Linked DNA regions of Homo sapiens: region 1 is linked to region 2. The links come from fine-mapping of genetic effects on plasma protein levels. Region 2 holds a variant in brackets. A gene starts in the other region. All regions are shown on their reverse strands. Region 1 holds the start of IGFBP3 (insulin like growth factor binding protein 3). Region 2 overlaps HAGH (hydroxyacylglutathione hydrolase).

What was found. PIP is the posterior inclusion probability: the model's chance that the variant is causal. Protein levels are from antibody-based Olink assays in UK Biobank. Linkage for the fine-mapping came from a reference panel and not from the study's own genotypes, which makes the PIPs less certain.
Region 1: it holds the start of IGFBP3, and the variant in region 2 is fine-mapped to the plasma level of the IGFBP3 protein (UK Biobank, PIP 0.98).

What each region holds. Positions count from the first base shown.
Region 1 is chr7:45,916,825-45,925,731 of GRCh38, reverse strand. IGFBP3 (insulin like growth factor binding protein 3) reads left to right here and starts at 4,460. Exons shown (of 5, transcript NM_000598.5): 1 at 4,460-4,994; 2 at 8,293-8,519. The coding sequence starts at 4,592. RefSeq lists enhancers at 3,496-4,076, 4,077-4,657.
Region 2 is chr16:1,810,052-1,818,955 of GRCh38, reverse strand. HAGH (hydroxyacylglutathione hydrolase) reads left to right here. Exons shown (of 9, transcript NM_005326.6): 6 at 1,685-1,788; 7 at 1,962-2,063. Among named protein-coding and RNA genes, the nearest start is that of HAGH, 12 kb to the left of the region's middle. The variant C/T (reference allele first, on the strand shown) is at 5,841.

The DNA.
Region 1 (8,907 bases), not on the chromosome of region 2:
GGAAAAGGAGCTTGAAGTGGCACCAAAGATGCCCTTGGGTAAAGACACAGGATTGACACTGGTGCCGGGGACAAACCAGCTGAATGAAAAGTGCTCCTAAAATCTTTCCTGTCCCCTTTTAAGACTTCACTGGGCAGGGAAAGACCATACTAGACTGTTGGCCAGTTTGAAGACTGTATGTCATGCCCACAGGTAGACTCAATTGTTAGCATGTTGACATTTGAACTAAGGAGACAAGGTATGTGGGCTGTGTGCTAGGACTCATTTGAGAATAAAACCTTTAAGATTGTTCAGGTGGCTATGTGAACACAAGGATGAACTTTTATTTCCCATTCCCCAGGCAACACTGTGTCTAAGAGTTCATCCTTCCATCAGTGCTGTAAGATAGGTACTAGTGCCCTTACCTGGTCCTAGAATTGAGTTGCAGAACTTGCCCAATGTCAGAAAGCTATTGAGAGGAGAACTGAGCAAGCAGTTAAGAATAAACTCTAGTCTACTGTGATTGAAGTCCCCAGTCTCTCTCATTGTTCTGAAGCTTCAACCTTGAAGAAAAGTTGGAAGTTAGACAGAGTCAGGAATTGCCTCTGTTTGAATGACCAGGAGACACAGAGGTAACTCTTATCATGTAAATGACTAACTGTGTAGGCAAGGGTGTGGGTGCCCACATGTAGAAGGTAGCACTATTGTGAGAGAAAGCCATGACAGGAGTATCATTGTCCTGAGCAGAAACCTCCCTTCCATGGGGTGGGCTCCCAATGTCCAGGCCCCTTCTCTGGAGCATCTATCTCCAGATTGTCTGACGACACGGGACAGCACTAACTCTGAGGAGCCCCTGTCTCTGGACCATGGATTTCCACTGCCACAGGTACCACTGTCCCCATCCAGTATATCCAGTTACCTTCTCTTCTCTTCCAAATCTCAGAATTATGCCTTCCACAGGTCACATGCACAATGCCAACACCATCCCCTCTGAGCCCTCCCCTCGTCCCTCCAGGCACACAGAATGACTCTCTGTGGATGCCCATACTTTCTTCTTGCCTGCCTCTCTCAGCTGGACTCTCCCACATTGTTTAAGACTCAATTCAAATGCCACCACCTCTCAGAAGTTTTTTCTGACCACACGGACAGGTTTGCCATCCCTCCAGCAGGGTTATAAATGCACCCGGTGAACCTCTCTGTTTTCTCTGCTGTCACACTGCCTACCACTGTCTGGACTCTGGTGAGTCACTCCAGCCAGCCTGTGAAATCCTGCAGCTGGCACATGGAGGTGCTTAGTAATCATTCTTGGACTAAGTGGATAGATGAACTCTTAATGATGTTATTTGTGAGTAAAAGTCATTTGCAGTGTTGTTAGCCACCGTGATGTTGGCAGTTGATGGTCCCCAATGCATCCCCAAGCCCAGTATATGTAATTCCGGGAGGCTCACCCAGCAGGCGATCTGATGGAGAGAAAATTAGATTTCCTGTCTCCACCAATACGTCCCCTAAAGGGGAAAAAAAACCTGAAGCTTATAGGGTGAGAGCCACTGAGTCCTAGCAACTGGGTCCCCAACACTGCTTGCCTTTAGAAGTTTGGCTCTTTCTGTTCTAAGTCTATTGGTGGTCAGTAAGACTGATAGCCACACCCCAGAGGACACTGAGAAACAGTAGTGCTGTCAGAAGGAGAGAGACCCTAGGGTGGCTTGTCCAGCTGGGGGCTGAGCAGAAGAAAAGCAAAGGAGCCAGTATCACGCAGCGACAAGGTGCCCTTTAGCAGCAGGAGTGGGCTCAAAGAAATGAGTGGTTTAGGTCACCTGGTGAAAATAACGAGGCTGACCAAAGGAAACACTAATTATAATCAGGTCAGCTGGACTCCGTTAGTGAAAAGAGATCTATGCAGCCTCCTGACCTCTATTCGGATGGTTATTCGCTACTTTTGCAATGATTAGCAATTGTATGCCAAGCACCTTCACAGGGGGTAAACATCTTTCTCACTAAATACTAGTTTATGTTAAAAACTACAAACACCAGATGAATTGGAAGTTTAACAGAATTAACGAGCATGTCACAAAATTAAGTTTTATCCAGTCCAAATCCTTCCTGCAACAATTATGTTCCGGGAGGGGCAGGGAGCTTGCAGTTATCAAATAAAACTGGCTAAATAACAAAACACAATTCTCCCCGTGTCACTGCCTCAAATTTACTCTGCTGTTGCAAGATGTCATGATAAAGGTGATGGCAATCTATATAAAACATTGTTATTGGAATAGCCTTTGAAAGTTGAAATGTGACTTAGTCTTTACGTGTGTCCCGTGGTCCCTGAGGCCGGGCTGGACGCCTGGAGCTTTGGCGCCCCCTAGCCATTCGGCACTGAACAAGTTTCTCCAACTGCAATGCGAGGGAAAAAAGAAGAGAACCAAGAATAAAACAAATTTTTTAATCCTTTCCAAAAAGACATTGTTTCTGATCTTCCCCTGTCCACTCTCCAGATGATAAAGCTGAATAAAAAGTGCTACACTAACCAGTGGTCAGTCCAGGCTCTGCTGCAACATTGCACTAACCAGAACTGCAGACCTGGGACCTCAAGAATTGCATTTGATGCCGAACCCAGCTCTAATTTCAGAGTCAAGGTCTCTGCGAGTATTTAAGGAACGGATGTAAACCTGGGGGATTCGTTTTGTTTCCTTCAATTTTCCAATGAAATCAGAGATCCTGTTCTTGGGTGTCAACGCAGATACTAGAAGGAGGTGATACAAGAGAAAGGAAACAGCAAGCGACGATTATGGCACGGTTTCCTGTAAACAAGGTTGAGTGTAGCCACAGCCTGAGCACTGTGGGAGAAGAGCTCATAAGAAAATGACGGTGCTGGGCCTTCGTCACCCCGGGGCACTCCATTGTTCTTGTCTTTGGTCTCTTTTTATTTGTAGAGGTCCAATTATTTATTTATTTAGTACAAGAGGGAACGAAATTGATCTTTCCATTCTAAAAGGAGAGTATATATGTATAAAAGGAAGCTGTATAGATATGGGGGAAGAGGTGGACAGGGGGAAAAGGGGAGAGGACGAGAGAGAGAAAGGGAGGGAGAGGGACAAGGAGAGACACTGGGCGAGAGATCGATTAGGAGAGACAGAAATGATGAATGAAGATTAACTTCACCCAAGGCTTCGTGCTGGAGGGGAATGGAGGAGCTCCTGATTTGCTATTACTACTCCAAACTGCAAAGGGCTCCTTCAAGTCACCTATCCACCTCCTAAGGCAAGCGTCCAATTTCAACAGCGTTCAGGAAAGTCTCCTCCCGCGGAGGTCTCACCGCTTCCCACTCCACCCCCACAAACTCTTTGGAAAAGTGCCTTGAAAAATTTAATCCTCAATCCAATCCTGGACCACCAGCGTCCTCTGTTGGTCACCGAAGGGAGGGGGTGCGCAGACAAAACTGAAGAAACTCGAGTGCCAGAGAAGGCCGACAGGAGTTACAGCGACCTCAGCGCGCAATTGCGCCCCCGAACTTTACTGAAAAGTGTTTAGATTGCAGAGATAAGCTAGAATCCCAACGCATCGAGAATACAGTAATACGAAGTCGCCTTCAAAAAATGACAATGAAAATTGCCTATTAAAGGACTATTTGGTTAATTACGTTTCAGCAGTGCCCAGTTTATTGTCTTTATTATTCTTTTGTCATGGGTGTAAACTCCATTTGAAAACATAATCAGGGAGAATACCCAAGACAAGAAGAACAGTTGTCATTTAAAATATTTGAAAAGCCCTGCCTTAAGGACGCATTCGCTTGCCGGTCCACTCTTAATTGGAGACTTGCGGTGTAGCAACACGTGAGAGTCTTCTTGCGTTGAGAAGTAAGCCTGGAAAGGGGCGAAGGCCCCGGGCGCATCTTCAGATGCGTATTTGTGGGCCCCTGGGGATATAAACAGCCCAGCGGGTGTAAATTAAACCCCGCAGTGCCTTGGCTCCCTGAGACCCAAATGTAAGTCAGAAATGTCCCAAGACTTCGCCTGCCAACGGAATTAAATTTTAGAAAGCTCCACGAGGTACACACGAATGCGGAGCGCTGTATGCCAGTTTCCCCGACACCGGCTCGCCGCAGGGAGACCTCACCCCGAGAGCGGAAGGGGTAAGGGCGGCGGGGTCAAGGAGATCGGGGGTGCTGAGTTGGCCAGGAGTGACTGGGGTGACCGGGGGTGCTGAGGTGGCCTGGAGTGCCGGGGTGGCCGGGCACACCTTGGTTCTTGTAGACGACAAGGTGACCCGGGCTCCGGGCGTGCGCACGAGGAGCAGGTGCCCGGGCGAGTCTCGAGCTGCACGCCCCCGAGCTCGGCCCCGGCTGCTCAGGGCGAAGCACGGGCCCCCGCAGCCGTGCCTGCGCCGACCCGCCCCCCTCCCAACCCCCACTCCTGGGCGCGCCGTTCCGGGGCGTGTCCTGGGCCACCCCGGCTTCTATATAGCGGCCGGCGCGCCCGGGCCGCCCAGATGCGAGCACTGCGGCTGGGCGCTGAGGATCAGCCGCTTCCTGCCTGGATTCCACAGCTTCGCGCCGTGTACTGTCGCCCCATCCCTGCGCGCCCAGCCTGCCAAGCAGCGTGCCCCGGTTGCAGGCGTCATGCAGCGGGCGCGACCCACGCTCTGGGCCGCTGCGCTGACTCTGCTGGTGCTGCTCCGCGGGCCGCCGGTGGCGCGGGCTGGCGCGAGCTCGGCGGGCTTGGGTCCCGTGGTGCGCTGCGAGCCGTGCGACGCGCGTGCACTGGCCCAGTGCGCGCCTCCGCCCGCCGTGTGCGCGGAGCTGGTGCGCGAGCCGGGCTGCGGCTGCTGCCTGACGTGCGCACTGAGCGAGGGCCAGCCGTGCGGCATCTACACCGAGCGCTGTGGCTCCGGCCTTCGCTGCCAGCCGTCGCCCGACGAGGCGCGACCGCTGCAGGCGCTGCTGGACGGCCGCGGGCTCTGCGTCAACGCTAGTGCCGTCAGCCGCCTGCGCGCCTACCTGCTGCCAGCGCCGCCAGCTCCAGGTGAGCCGCCCGCGCCAGGTGCGCTGCGTGCAGCACCCGGCGCACTGGCGCCGAAGGGCCTGGGGGTTGCTGGGTGCCGCTGCGGGAGACTCCGCTTTTCTTCTCACTGGAGATAATATGTGGGGAAACTGAAGGCGCTCCGGGAAAGGTGAAGGCGGTCGCCGGAGGGACCCTCCCCAGCCGGCCCTCTACTTGCTCGATTCTCTAAGTGCAGAGTACTTGTAAATTGCAAAGCGCTTTCAGTGAAAATGGGTTAAAGGTTTCCGGAGCTGAGGGGAGCGGTACCGATGTTTAGCTGTTGGAAAGATCCTGGACACAGGAGATTCTCCTCGCCCCGCACGGGGGTGCACACGGACTGCAATCCCAGGGATGCTTGGGGATGGGGGGGATATAGGCGGATTTGGACCAAGGAAGGTGGGCAGGCACGTTGTAGGAAATAGTACCTCTCTTTTAAAATACTGACTTTGCACAGCCTTTTGGTTTGCAAAGCAATGTCTAGTCCCGGTATGTCCAAAAACAAGTAAAGTGGATTCGGGTTTTGATATCTTCTGCGGTTGGAAAACCTGAAGCTGAAAAAGAAGTAACTTCTTAAGGTTACCCAGCGGCCACAACAGAGTGTAGGTTTGAACTCCGCGTGCCACTTTCAGTACCATACCATTCTTACAACTCGGGCCACCCCTGCACCTGCGCCGACCTCAAACAAACTTCCAGGTGCGTGGTGGGTGCGGGCAATGTGGACTAAGTCAATTTCAATGACACGGAAGGGAATTGGAATCAGTCCTAGGGCTGTCTCCCTTCTTAATCTGAAATGGGGGGGGGAATGAGATGTTGTTAAGGGGAGCCCCAGAAGAGGAAAAATGCAAACATTTGGCAGAGTTACCCTCTTGGCTTAGCCACTATCAGTATCAGGCAGACAGCGACTCTGGTAAGGGCATCACATTGTTCCCTTAAAAAAAGGAGCGGGGGTTGTTTAAATGGATTTGGCAGCTGTTCTTTCAAGCATTCTTAGCCAGCCTCACCTAGTTATATGAGAAATAAAGTTCCTGCCTTGCACAGCTGAAGGCTGGGAGAATTCTCCCCATCCTAATTCCCCCAACTCCCCAACGATCACGTTGGACAGATGTCACTGGGCAGGCCCCCATCTAGGGCTAGCAGGATGAACAGTCCCTTTATAATTTATGTAGCTGTAGAGTTCCACGCCCGGGTGAAGTTATTTTCTGGCTCGGCAAGGCTGGCTCTGTTCACCCCTGAGAAATGCTGGATTCATGGAAAGGCAAGATGCCTGAAACATACACTGGCTCTGGTCAGCTGTTAAAGCTGCTGGAGGCATTTGTCTCTCGGGGCAAAGTTATGTCATTTGCCAAGTGTCGTACATTATTGTGCATTTTGGGGTATTCAAAAAGTGATCTTAGAAATACTGATACACATCGTCATTCTTGGGCTTTAGCAATCATCATGATTACCACCTTAGTAGCACTGTAGTATAGGTTGATGTGAGTTATAAGATTATAAAAAGATCTAAGTGACTTCTAGAATCTATTTGACAAAAAAAGGTAAATTTTCGACAGTCAAAAGTCACAATTATCTGTTGCTTAAATAGAACTGTTTTGTCTTCATGCCCTAGTCTGCAGCCCAGGCATTAAGAAGAAACCAAGGAAATTTAAGAAATTACTCAAGGTTCTTAGAAAAGAAGTATAAATACGTTTATTTACATGTTCTTAGAGTATTTACATTCTTAGTATCTCTTTTATCTCAGTATTTCCTTGAAAAAGAAAGCAAGCTAAGATTAAAAGAAATTGAAACCAAATCCTCGCAGGTAGGGACCTCCTCTGTGAGGCTCTGTGCTGGACCCTGGGAATGTGTGCTTCCCAAGGTATGAAACCCCTTGGGGAACTTTACAGCAGGACCTCAGTGAGCTGTTTGGCAGGTGAGGAAACTAAGACCCAGAGAGGAGAGGGACTTTCCTAAGGCCCTGGTGAGTGACCTGCCAGTAGCCACTTCCAGGGGAGAGCAGAGCATCTGCAGCCAAATCATTGCAGCCCCAGGTAGCTTTCTAGAATAGACTGTGGACCAGATGGGCCACCTGAGCTCCCTGCTAGGGTTACACATTATAGCCCTGTTTGTTGTAGTAGAGAAATTTCATGACTCTCAATTGTGGACTTAAGCCGATGCCTCCAGACCTTGGCATGGTCCACAGGCCCTGGGAGCATGGGCTCTGAATGTAGCCTTTGATCCCCATAGCGGTCTTACAGCCCCTCCAAGTTCATTCTGAAGAAGGAATGGAGTGAGAATCCTGGCTGCAGATCCAGTCTTGAATTTAGTCATATACTTAAAATTCCAATTCAACTGTTAACATTCCAGCATCCATTTTAAGCATCAGACTTTCTTCATTTAGCACTTTTTATTATAAAAGGGAGATCTGCTGGAGGGGGATTTCTCCTACCCCACCCCCACCCAGGGAAGGAAAAGCTCTTTGGCACTTAGAAGTCTGAGCCGTGAGTGGGACTTTGGCATTGTCTGCATCCATGTGCTGCTGTGTTCACCCGGGGTGAAAAGGACTCACTTAGGCAGGCACCAGCAAGATGCACAGGGTCTGTGTAGACCTTGAGTTTTAGAGATGTAACGGGGACCTAGAAAACAAGCCACCAACATGCTTGCATGATTCTGAGCCCCTGAGGCAAAACGCTTTGCAGGTAATAATTCAGTTTTCCCATCTGAGCTGGACACCAAGCTCTTATAAGCGTGTTTACCTGGTAGCATTGAGGACGGTACTGGTCAACCTTGGAATTCCCATAAGGGCTTGTTACAACTCAGACTGCTGCCGCCACTCCAGCGTTTCCGGAGTGGAGAATGTGCATTTCTTCCAAGTCCCCGGGCTGCCGCTGCTCCCGCGGGTGGGAGGACCACACTTGGAGTTGACTGCAAAATTTCTGAGCCGGCGCTGCAGCAGCCTCCCGTGGCTCAGGTCTGCCCCCTGCCGGTGGAAGATGAAGCATACTGCCTTCACCTACTGAGGGGCACTGAAGCGTTTGTCTGCCTTCTTTAGTTGCAGCTACTTAGGAAGAGCACCTGTCAGATTGACTTTCAAACAGATAACTTCTTGAGGTAGAGCAACCACCATGTAGTGAGTAGTATGATGGAATAATACTTCATCGAGGTATTTTAAAAAAAAAAACTCACTTGGATTGCCAACTAATATTGTCATTTACATGTGACCTGGTTGCAACGTTAAGATTTTTAAAAGACTGTGATAGATATTGATGACTCTCATGTGTTTGTCTCTCTTGGGCGTTTTAAGGAAATGCTAGTGAGTCGGAGGAAGACCGCAGCGCCGGCAGTGTGGAGAGCCCGTCCGTCTCCAGCACGCACCGGGTGTCTGATCCCAAGTTCCACCCCCTCCATTCAAAGATAATCATCATCAAGAAAGGGCATGCTAAAGACAGCCAGCGCTACAAAGTTGACTACGAGTCTCAGAGCACAGATACCCAGAACTTCTCCTCCGAGTCCAAGCGGGAGACAGAATATGTGAGAGCTTTTCCTCTTGTTAAAGGAGGAGGGCAAGACCTGCCAAGCCTGGGTACTCAGAGCCTCTTGAGGGCAATTCTTACTCAACAAACCCCAGCGCCTGGCTGATGGGTGGGCAACCCCTAGCCCCTCTGTGCCCTACCTCTCTCCTCTCCTTACATAAAGAATATTGACCCTTTTGGAGAATCTTATGAGGATCAAGCTGAAATAACACTCTTAAAAGCATATGGGATGTCATAAAGACCTCTGCAGATAATGAAAAATATTCTCATAAAGATAGTTTTATTTACTTCATCCTCTATGCTTGTTGACCTGCTATTGGTTCCATACCAGCTTCTGTGCCTTACTCTGGGAAGAGCAAAAAGGAGACAGGGAGTGATGGTTAGCT
Region 2 (8,904 bases):
TCCTCCCATGATGGGTTTGGATCGTGGTCTGGAAGGAAGTTACGCTTGCAGCAAGGGCTGTGCTGGCGGAGACTGCTGGACAGCTGGGGTCCGGGCGGGTCCCACGGGAAAGGAGTCAGTTTCTTCCAGCAGGGCGAGGGGTGGCTCAGCCCTGGGGCTGTGTTCCTTGATGCCGTAGTGTGGACTCAGGGACCTGTGCTAGTCTGGGGGCCCTGCCTGCCTCCCAGGGTGGTTGCAGACCTGTGGAGCCACCTGTGGAGGTCATATGGCCGGGGGACGGCCTCACTGTAGGCCGGGCCCTTCATGGCTGCGGCCTTCTAAGGCGGTGCGGAGGCTGCTGGTGGTGGGGGCTGCCTCCCGTGCTTGTTACTGTGGCCTTGTCCCGACTGGCCTCACAGTGCGGGGTTTCACCCGGTGACTCGATGTGGGCCTTGTACGGCTGGGAGGCCTCCTGGTGGGAGGTGGCAGCCCCAGCCTTGAACCCAGGTGGGAGTGACCCAGGGCCACACTCGGACCCCTGGGTGGAGTCAAACCAGGGGTGCAGGGAGAAGGTGTGGCCAGGGAGCCCCAGAGGAGGGCGGAGGGCATGGCGGGAGGGACGGGCGCCTCGCTGTGAGGGATAAGGTGCCTTCAGGCTGCAGTGCGCAGGGCTGGGGGATGAGCCTGGGTGGTGCCGGTGTGGGAGGGATGGAGTTGGGGACCTCAGATTTAGGATTCTTCTCAGGGCAGCGAGCACGGAGTCCCTGGGTCTCACCTGTGCCTCCTGGGCTGTGTGCCTGGCGCAAGGACAGCCCTGTGGAGCAGAAGCCCCAGGCCCCAAGTTCGCCTCTGTCTGCCCTTCCCTATCTCTGGGGACTCCATGGCCTCCTGCTGGTCCTCAGACTCGAGGTCTAGGGCCCTTCAGGGGAACAGGCTCCCCACCGTCCATTCCCATCTCTCGTGCCCAGAAGGACTCCTGGCCTTGGCCTGTGCCCAGCACCGCTGCATGCTTCTCTGCCCCAGGTGGTGAGAAGTGGGGCGGCCTCCACTGTGCTGGGTGCTGGGCACCCTCCTCTCAGGGGACTGCCCTGTTTCTGGGGCAGACGGCCACGTGAGGTCAGCGAGGCCAGGACAGCCGCGAAGCAGCAAGAGGAGGGCAAGCGGGGACAGAGGCCTGGGCAGTGATGGGGTGGGGATGCCGTCCTGAGGCCGAGGCCGGAAGGAGCCTGGGTGCGCCTGAGGTGCCCAGCGGTGTGGGCCGCATCTTCCGCCATGGGTGAGAGGTGGTCCCGCTCAGCTCAGCCAGGGTGGTGAGACCTTGGTCACAGGGTGGCGCTGGCTGCTGGGGCCAAGGGAAGATGGGAGCCAGGCATGGGCCTGAGAGGGGCTGCTGCGTGTTTGGGGAGAGGGCTGGATTTGTGAGGGTCTCAGAGCCACAGTTGGTGGGATTGGGGGCAGTGAGGGAGGAGTGACTTGGGTTTCGGGTCTGCTCGGCCAGTTGGGTGGTTGGACTGTCAGCTGAGACTTGGAAGGAGATGTGGGAGCCGGAATGCAGGGGGGCTGAGTCTGGGCAGCCGTGGCCGGAGGGCAGCCAGGGTTCGGGGCCTGGGCCTTGCCGGTGAGTGTCACCCTGCTCCTGGCCCCCTCCTGAGTCCTAGCCACCAGCCTCAAGTGGCCCCCACCTCGTGGCTGTCCTTGTTTCCAGGTGACACCTTGTTTGTGGCTGGCTGCGGGAAGTTCTATGAAGGGACTGCGGATGAGATGTGTAAAGCTCTGCTGGAGGTCTTGGGCCGGCTCCCCCCGGACACAGTAGGCAGCGCCTCCCTGCGGGCCGGGGTGTGGGGGGCCTTAACCAGGGCGGGGCTGCTCTCCCTCCTGGCACCCTCTCACCGGACACCCCCCGGGGGCATCCAGGTCCCGTCCCTGAGGACTTTCACAGGTGGTAACAGCCTTCCGAGCTCACCTGTCACCTCTCTCCTCAGAGAGTCTACTGTGGCCACGAGTACACCATCAACAACCTCAAGTTTGCACGCCACGTGGAGCCCGGCAATGCCGCCATCCGGGAGAAGCTGGCCTGGGCCAAGGTGAGTGGGGCCGTCACTGCGCAGTGCCTTCCTGTGGGCTGCTCAGGGCCGCTGTGCACAGCGGGGTCGCCAGAGTGGGTAGACACTCACACTCTGAGCCCAGAGAGCAGGCCTGGGATTCAGGCCAGTGTGGCCCAGCTCGCCCTGCACGGCAAACCCAGGGGTTCTATGGAGATCCCTCTGCCTCGGAGGGTCTGGAGTAGGCCTCAGACGCTGCGTGTGTAAAAAGCGCCCAGCCTGTTCCCACATTCTGAGCAGTAGGGTCAGGCTGGCAGCACGTGGCTCTGCTGGCTCTCCAGGCCACAGAACGTGGCTCTGTGTCCAAAGGACTCTTATCTCCACGGTGGCCCCACGTGAGCCTCCATGGCGTAGCCCAGGCCAGCTGGGCCAAAGTCTGCCAGGAGCAGGACGGGGTTCTCCAGGGGTGTGTTTCCCCGAATTCACTGGAAACGGTGTCACAAGCACGCACGCCTGGGTGGTCTCAGGCGTGGGCTCCCTCTGCTGAGTGGAGTGAGAGTCGCTGCCTCTGACAGGGTTGTTTTAAATAAATCACCCGGTTTTTTGAGCATCTTTTTCAATTTCTTAGAGTAGAGGTTAACATTATTTTACAGTATTTACTCATGCAAATTCCAACTCTAAATCAGATGAATCATAAATACTCATCTTTTTTTTTTTTTTAATTTTTTTTTGAGACGGAGTCTCCCTCTGTCGCCCAGGCTGGAGTACAGTGGCGTAATCTCGGCTCACTGCAACCAGCACCTCCCGGGTTCAAGAAATTCTCCCTGCTGGCCGGGCGTGGTGGCTCACGCTTGTAATCCCAACTACTCAGGAGGCTGAGGCAGGAGAATCGCTTGAACCCAGGAGGCAGAGGTTGCAGTGAGCCAAGATCGCTCCACTGCGCTCCAGCCTGGTGACAGAGCGAGACTCCGTCTCAAAAAAAAAAAAAAAAAAAAAAAAAAATTCTCCCTGCCTCAGCCTCTTGAGTAGCTGGGATTACAGGCGCCAGCCAACACGCCCAGCTAATTTTTCTACTTTTAGTAGAGATAGGGTTTTGCCATGTTGGCCAGGCTCGTCTTGAACTCCTGACTTCAGGTAATCCGCCTGCCTTGGCCTCCCAAAGTGCTGAGATTACAGGCGTGAGCCACGTCACCTGGCCCGTGTGTCTGTCTTGAGTGGACAGATTGCAGTTTGAGGAATGTTGATGATGTTTGCACTTGTGTAATCCCCTCCACAGTCCAGATGTGGAACTTACCACTACCCCAAAGGCTCCTGTGTCCCTCCCATGTGGCGTCCCCGCCAGCTGTTGCTCTGCTGTGACCTCAGGTCACTTTCTAGTTTCCCATGAACAGAATCTCATTGCTCCGTCATCTCTGTGGCATTCTCGGCCCCGCTGATGTTGGTGAGGGTCAGCCACGCTCTTTGCTTCTGAGTAGCCCATTGTGTGGAAATGCTACAATTTGTTTATGCATTTGTCTGTTTCCAGTTTTTTGCTATTTGAATAAAGCTGCTATGGACATTTGTGTACAAGTCTTTTGTGAACATGTTTTTATTGCTCTTGGATACTACCTAAGAGTGGAATTGCTGTGTTGTGTGGTTAAAGGTGTGAACCGTTTTCCAAAAATGGTTGTACTGTTCTACAGTCCCCCACCAATGCTTGAGTTCCGGGGCCTCCATGCTGTGCCAGCACTGCTTGGTGTTGTCGGTCTCTCCAATTTTTGCCATTCTAACTTGCCTGTGGTGGCGTCTCACTGCCTTTAAAATGTGGATTTCCCCATGTGACCATCTTTTCATGTGTGTCGGCCTTTGGATGCCTTCTCATGAAGTTTATGTTCAATCTTTTGTCCATTTTAAATATTGGGTTTGGCCTGTTGGGCTGCTCTTGTAAGAGTTCCTTATATCATCTGGAAACAAGTCTTTGTGAGATATATATATATATGTGTGTGTGTGTGTGTGTGTGTGTGTATATACATATATATATTTATTTGTTTGTTTTTTGAGACAAAGTCTTGCTCTGTCGCCCAGGCTGGAGTGCAGTGGTGTGATCTCATCTCACTGCAAGCTCTGCCTCCCGGGTTCAAGCCATTCTCCTGCCTCAGCCTCCCAAGTAGCTGGGACTACAGGTGCCCGTCACCACGCCCAGCTAATTTTTTGTATTTTTAGTAGAGATGGGTTTCACCGTGTTATCCAGGAAGGTCTCGATCTCCTGACCTCGTGATCCACCCGCCTCGGCCTCCCAAAGTGCTGGGATTACAGGCGTGACCCACCACGCCCAGCTGAGATATATATTTAAAAGATGTTTTTCTCTCCCAGCTCATGGCTTGCCTTTTCATTTTCTTAACATTGTCTTTTGGAAAATAGTTTATAGTTTTGGTGAAGTTCCATTTACTTATTTTTTGTTTGTTTCTTTTTTTTTTTTTTGAGACGGAGTTTCACTCTTGTTGCCCAGGCTGGAGTGCAGCGGCGCGATCTCAGCTCACCGCAACATCCACCTCCTGGGTTTAAGCGATTCTCCTGCCTCAGCCTCCCGAGTAGCTGGGATTACAGGCATGCACCACCACACCCGGTTAATTTTGTATTTTTAGTAGAGATGGGGTTTCTCCATGTTGATCAGGCTGGACTCGAACTCCTGACCTCAGGTGATCTGCCCACCTTGGGCTCCAAAAGTGCTGGGATTACAGATGTGAGCCACTGCGCCCGGCCTACTCAATTTTTCTTTTATGTTTCTTGTGCCCTTTCTAAGATATCTTTGCATACCCTTAGCTCACAAAGACTTTCTCCTGTGTTTCTTCCTAGAAGTTTTAAAGTCTTAGCTTTTATATTTACAAACAATTTACAGTGTTCCCTTTCAAGATGGTGTTTGTGTGTGGTGCGAGGTGAGGGTAGAGGTTCACCCTCTCGCAGTGTGATCCCGAGGTGTTCAGGGCTGTCTGTCGAAGGACTGTCCTTTCCTCCCTGGATTGCCTTGGCACCTTTCTGAAAAGAATGGGCCCTCTATGCCCGAGTCTGCTTCTGGTCTCTGCTCTGTTTCGTTGGTCTCTATGACTTGCCACGGTGTCCGAGGACAGCACCTTGATGACTGTAACTCTGTGCTGAGTCTTGGCACTGGTATGTGTGAATCCTCCAGTGTTCTTTTTCAAAATGGTTTTAGTTGTTTTAAGCCTTTTACATTTCCGTTTTCAGAATCATCTCGTGAACTTCTATCAGAAAAGCTAGCCTGGCTGCTGATTGGGACTGTTGTGATAACTGATGTGGCGAGAATTGCGATCTTAACATTGAGTGTTTCTGTGAGCTTTCCATCTATGAATGTCTTTAGCTTTTCTCAGCAGTGTTTTGAAATTTGCGTGTTCAAGGTCTTGCACGTGTTACTAAATGGATCCCTAAGCACTTCTGGTCATGATTATTTGTTGATACTAGTTATAAATACAGTGGATGCGTATTAACTTCCTGGGTGTCTTAGTCTGTGTGGTGTTGCTATAAAGGAATACTTGAGGCCGGGTGACTTATAAAAGGAGGTTTATGTGGCTCATGGTTATGCAGGCTATATAAGCAGCATGGCCTGGGCGTCTGCACCTGGTGAGGCCTCAGGCTGCTTCTGCTCATGGCAGAAGGCGAAAGGAGCTGGTGGGTGTGAAGCATGTGGCCAGAGGAAGGAGAGAGTGGGGGAGGCAAAAGTTTCTTTTAAACAACCAGATCCTGTGGGAACTAACAGCAAAAACTCGCACTTGGAGCAGGGCACCAAGCCGTTCACAAAGGATTCCCCCCATGATCCAAACACCT[C/T]CATTAATTGGGGATCAGATTTGAGCATGCGTTTGGAGGGATGGACATCCCAGCCGCAGCCCCGTGTGAACACCCAGGAGAAGGGAGTGGCCGGGCTGGACGGGAGGTGTGTTTGACTTTTAAAGAAACTGCCAAACTCCCCTTCCCCGGTGCTTGTGGTGTTTGCTTTCCTGCTGGGAAGGCGTGGGCACACCAGCTGGTCCGTGTCTTTCGGCACACCACACGGTGGAGCCAGCCCACGCGGTGGAGCCAGCCGTTTGAAAGGAGGTGCTGGAGCCCAGTCCCTGGTGAGAGGCCGCCTCCTGCAGGGCGCCTCCCATTCTGCGGCCTCTGGTTTTCTTAGCAGTATCTTTTGAGCCAACATTTTTAATTTTAATGAAGTCCAATAGATTCTTTTATGCTTCATTCTTTTTTGTCTCCCATCTAAGAAATCTTTGTTTATCCCAAGGTCAAAAAATTTTCTCCTGTATTTTATTTTTGGAATTTGTATAGTTTTAAAACTTAGTATGAACTCCCACCCCCCAAATGTCTGCTGGATCTGTAATGATATTCCTGCTTTCATTCCTGATTTTGACAATTTGTGTGTTTTTTTTTTGTTTTTTTTTTTTTTTGAGACAGCGTTTCGCTCTTGCCGCCCAGGCTGGAGTGCAATGGCGCGATCTCGGCTCACCGCAACCCCTGCCTCCCGGGTTCAAGCGATTCTCATGCCTCAGCCTCCCAAGTAGCTGGGACTACAGGCATGTGCCACCATGCCTGGGTAATTTTTATATTTTTAGTAGAGATGGGGTTTTACCATGTTGGCCAGGCTGATCTCAAACTCCTGACTTCGTGATCTGCCCGCCTCAGCCTCCCAAAGTGCTGGGATTACAGGCGTGAGCCACTGTGCCTGGCCTGTCATTCTTTTTTTTTTTTTTTTTGGTTGGGGAGAGACAGCGTCTTGCTCTGCTGCCCAGGCTGGAGTGCAGTGGCACAATCTCGGCTCACTGCAACCTCCGCCTCCTGGGTTCAGGCGATTCTGCTGCCTCAGTCTCCCGTACCTGGGACTACAGGCCTGTGCCATCATGCTTGGTTAATTTTTGTATTTTTGGTAGAGAGGGGGTTTACACGATGTTGCCTAGGCTGGTCTTGAACTTCTGGGCTCAAGTGATCCTCCTGCCTTGGCCTCCCAAAGTGCTGGGATTACAGGCATGTGCCAACCACACCCGGCCTCATTCTTTTTGATAGGTGTAAAATATACTATTGCGTGGGTGTCACCCATAAATCATTTTACCAATCCCCATAGGAGGGACGTTGAGAGTTTTCAACTCCTTTTGCACCCTGGAGTCCAGAACCCACACGAGGTGGAGCTCTTCTGAGCTGTGCTGCAAGGACTGACCTTATTTTTTTATTTTTATTTTTTTGAGGCAGAGTCTCACTCTGTCACCCAAGCTGGAGTGCAGTGGTGCGATCTCGGCTCACTACTGCAGCCTCCGCCTCCCGGGTTCAAGCGATTCTCCTGCCTCAGCCTCCCAAGTAGCTGGAATTACAGACATGTGCCACCACGTCTGGCTAATTTTTGTATTTTTAGTAGAGACGGGGTTTCACCATGTTGGCCAGGCCGGTCTCAAACTCCTGACCTCAGGTGATCCACCTGCCTCAGCCTCCCCCAGTGCTGGGATTACAGGTGTGAGCAACCGCGCCCGGCCTGTTGTTCTTTCTTTGGGAGACAGTGTCTTGCTCTGCTGCCCAGGCTGGAGTGCAGTGGCATGGTCTTGGCTCGCTGCAGCCTCCACCTCCTGGGTTCAAGTGATTCTCCTGCCTCAGCTTCTCCAGTAGCTGGGATTACAGGCACCCGCCACCACACCCGGCTGATTTTTTCTATTTTAGTAGAGATGGGGTTTCACCGTGTTGCCCAGGCTGGTCTCGAACTCCTGAGTTCAGGCAATCCACCCACCTCGGCCTCCCAAAGTGTTAGGATTACAGGCGTGAGCCACTGCGCTCGGCTGACTGACCTTATTTTTGTCTTTAAATGCTTCGTACTTTGTAGGAAAAATAGCTAGAACATTAAAACTCGTTTTAATAGGTAACCTAAAAGCTTATGACAATTTGTACTTCCTCTGTTTTAAAGGTCTCCTTAGAAGTGTTAACTTTGCTTCCCTCGTAGGAGGCAGAGGGAGATTTCTTAGGATTGAGAATGTTGGTGGGAACACAGGGAATATTTTAAAACATTCTCAGATTCTTTTCGCCAGAAGGGAAGAACAGATTAGTGAGAAACCATCTTGGCATCTACCAGACCCCCGCTTGGTGCAGCTCTACCAGCTGAAGAGTCACTCACCGACACCACTGCCCATAGCGGGTGGGGAACCTCGGGGGTGAGGCGCGGTGGTCTTGAGCCTGTGCGTGGGCACCAGCAGCTTCTGTCAGAGCTCTGCCCTGAGGCCCTCCTGGTGCGGCTGCGGTAGAAGGGCCGGGGCTGTGTGGAGACCCCGCTGTTGCCGCCCTGTGTTTTCCTGCTAACTGTTGGCCCCGTGGCTGGGTTTGCATTCTCCTCCCCCCGCCCCCACCCCATCTGCCCTGGTCAGTGCTGGTCGGAAGGGAGACCATCTCCATCTCGAGAGGAGGTGACCAGCTGCCTGCCTGCAGGGGCTTGGGTGGCCTCCCCTGCTGCTGGTCCCTGTGCCCCTCCTCCCCGTGCTTGCTGTGAGGCTGCAGCTGTGGCGGTTTCTTTTCTGTGTCTCCTGCATTGCTGTTACCTCCATAATGTGAAATGTAAACCATGTGAATGAAAAGGAAGCTCCGTCCCTGTCGTCCTCTCCAGGCCGGTGCGGGAAGGCGGATGTGTGGCTCATCCCGGACGCTGGCTTCTCTTCCCTCTTCCACACGCGCACACCCGCCGGGCTCTGCTCACCTTGCCTTCTCAGCCTTGTCAGTCGGGCAGTGTCCTAAGGTTACCAGGAGGTGTTCTGAAGCATTTTTTGAGACGTGATGTCGCTGTCACCCAGGCTGGAGGGCAGTAGCACAGTCTTGGCTCACTGTAGCCTCGACCTGTGCTCAAGCGATCCTCCCACCTCAGCCCCCTGAGTAG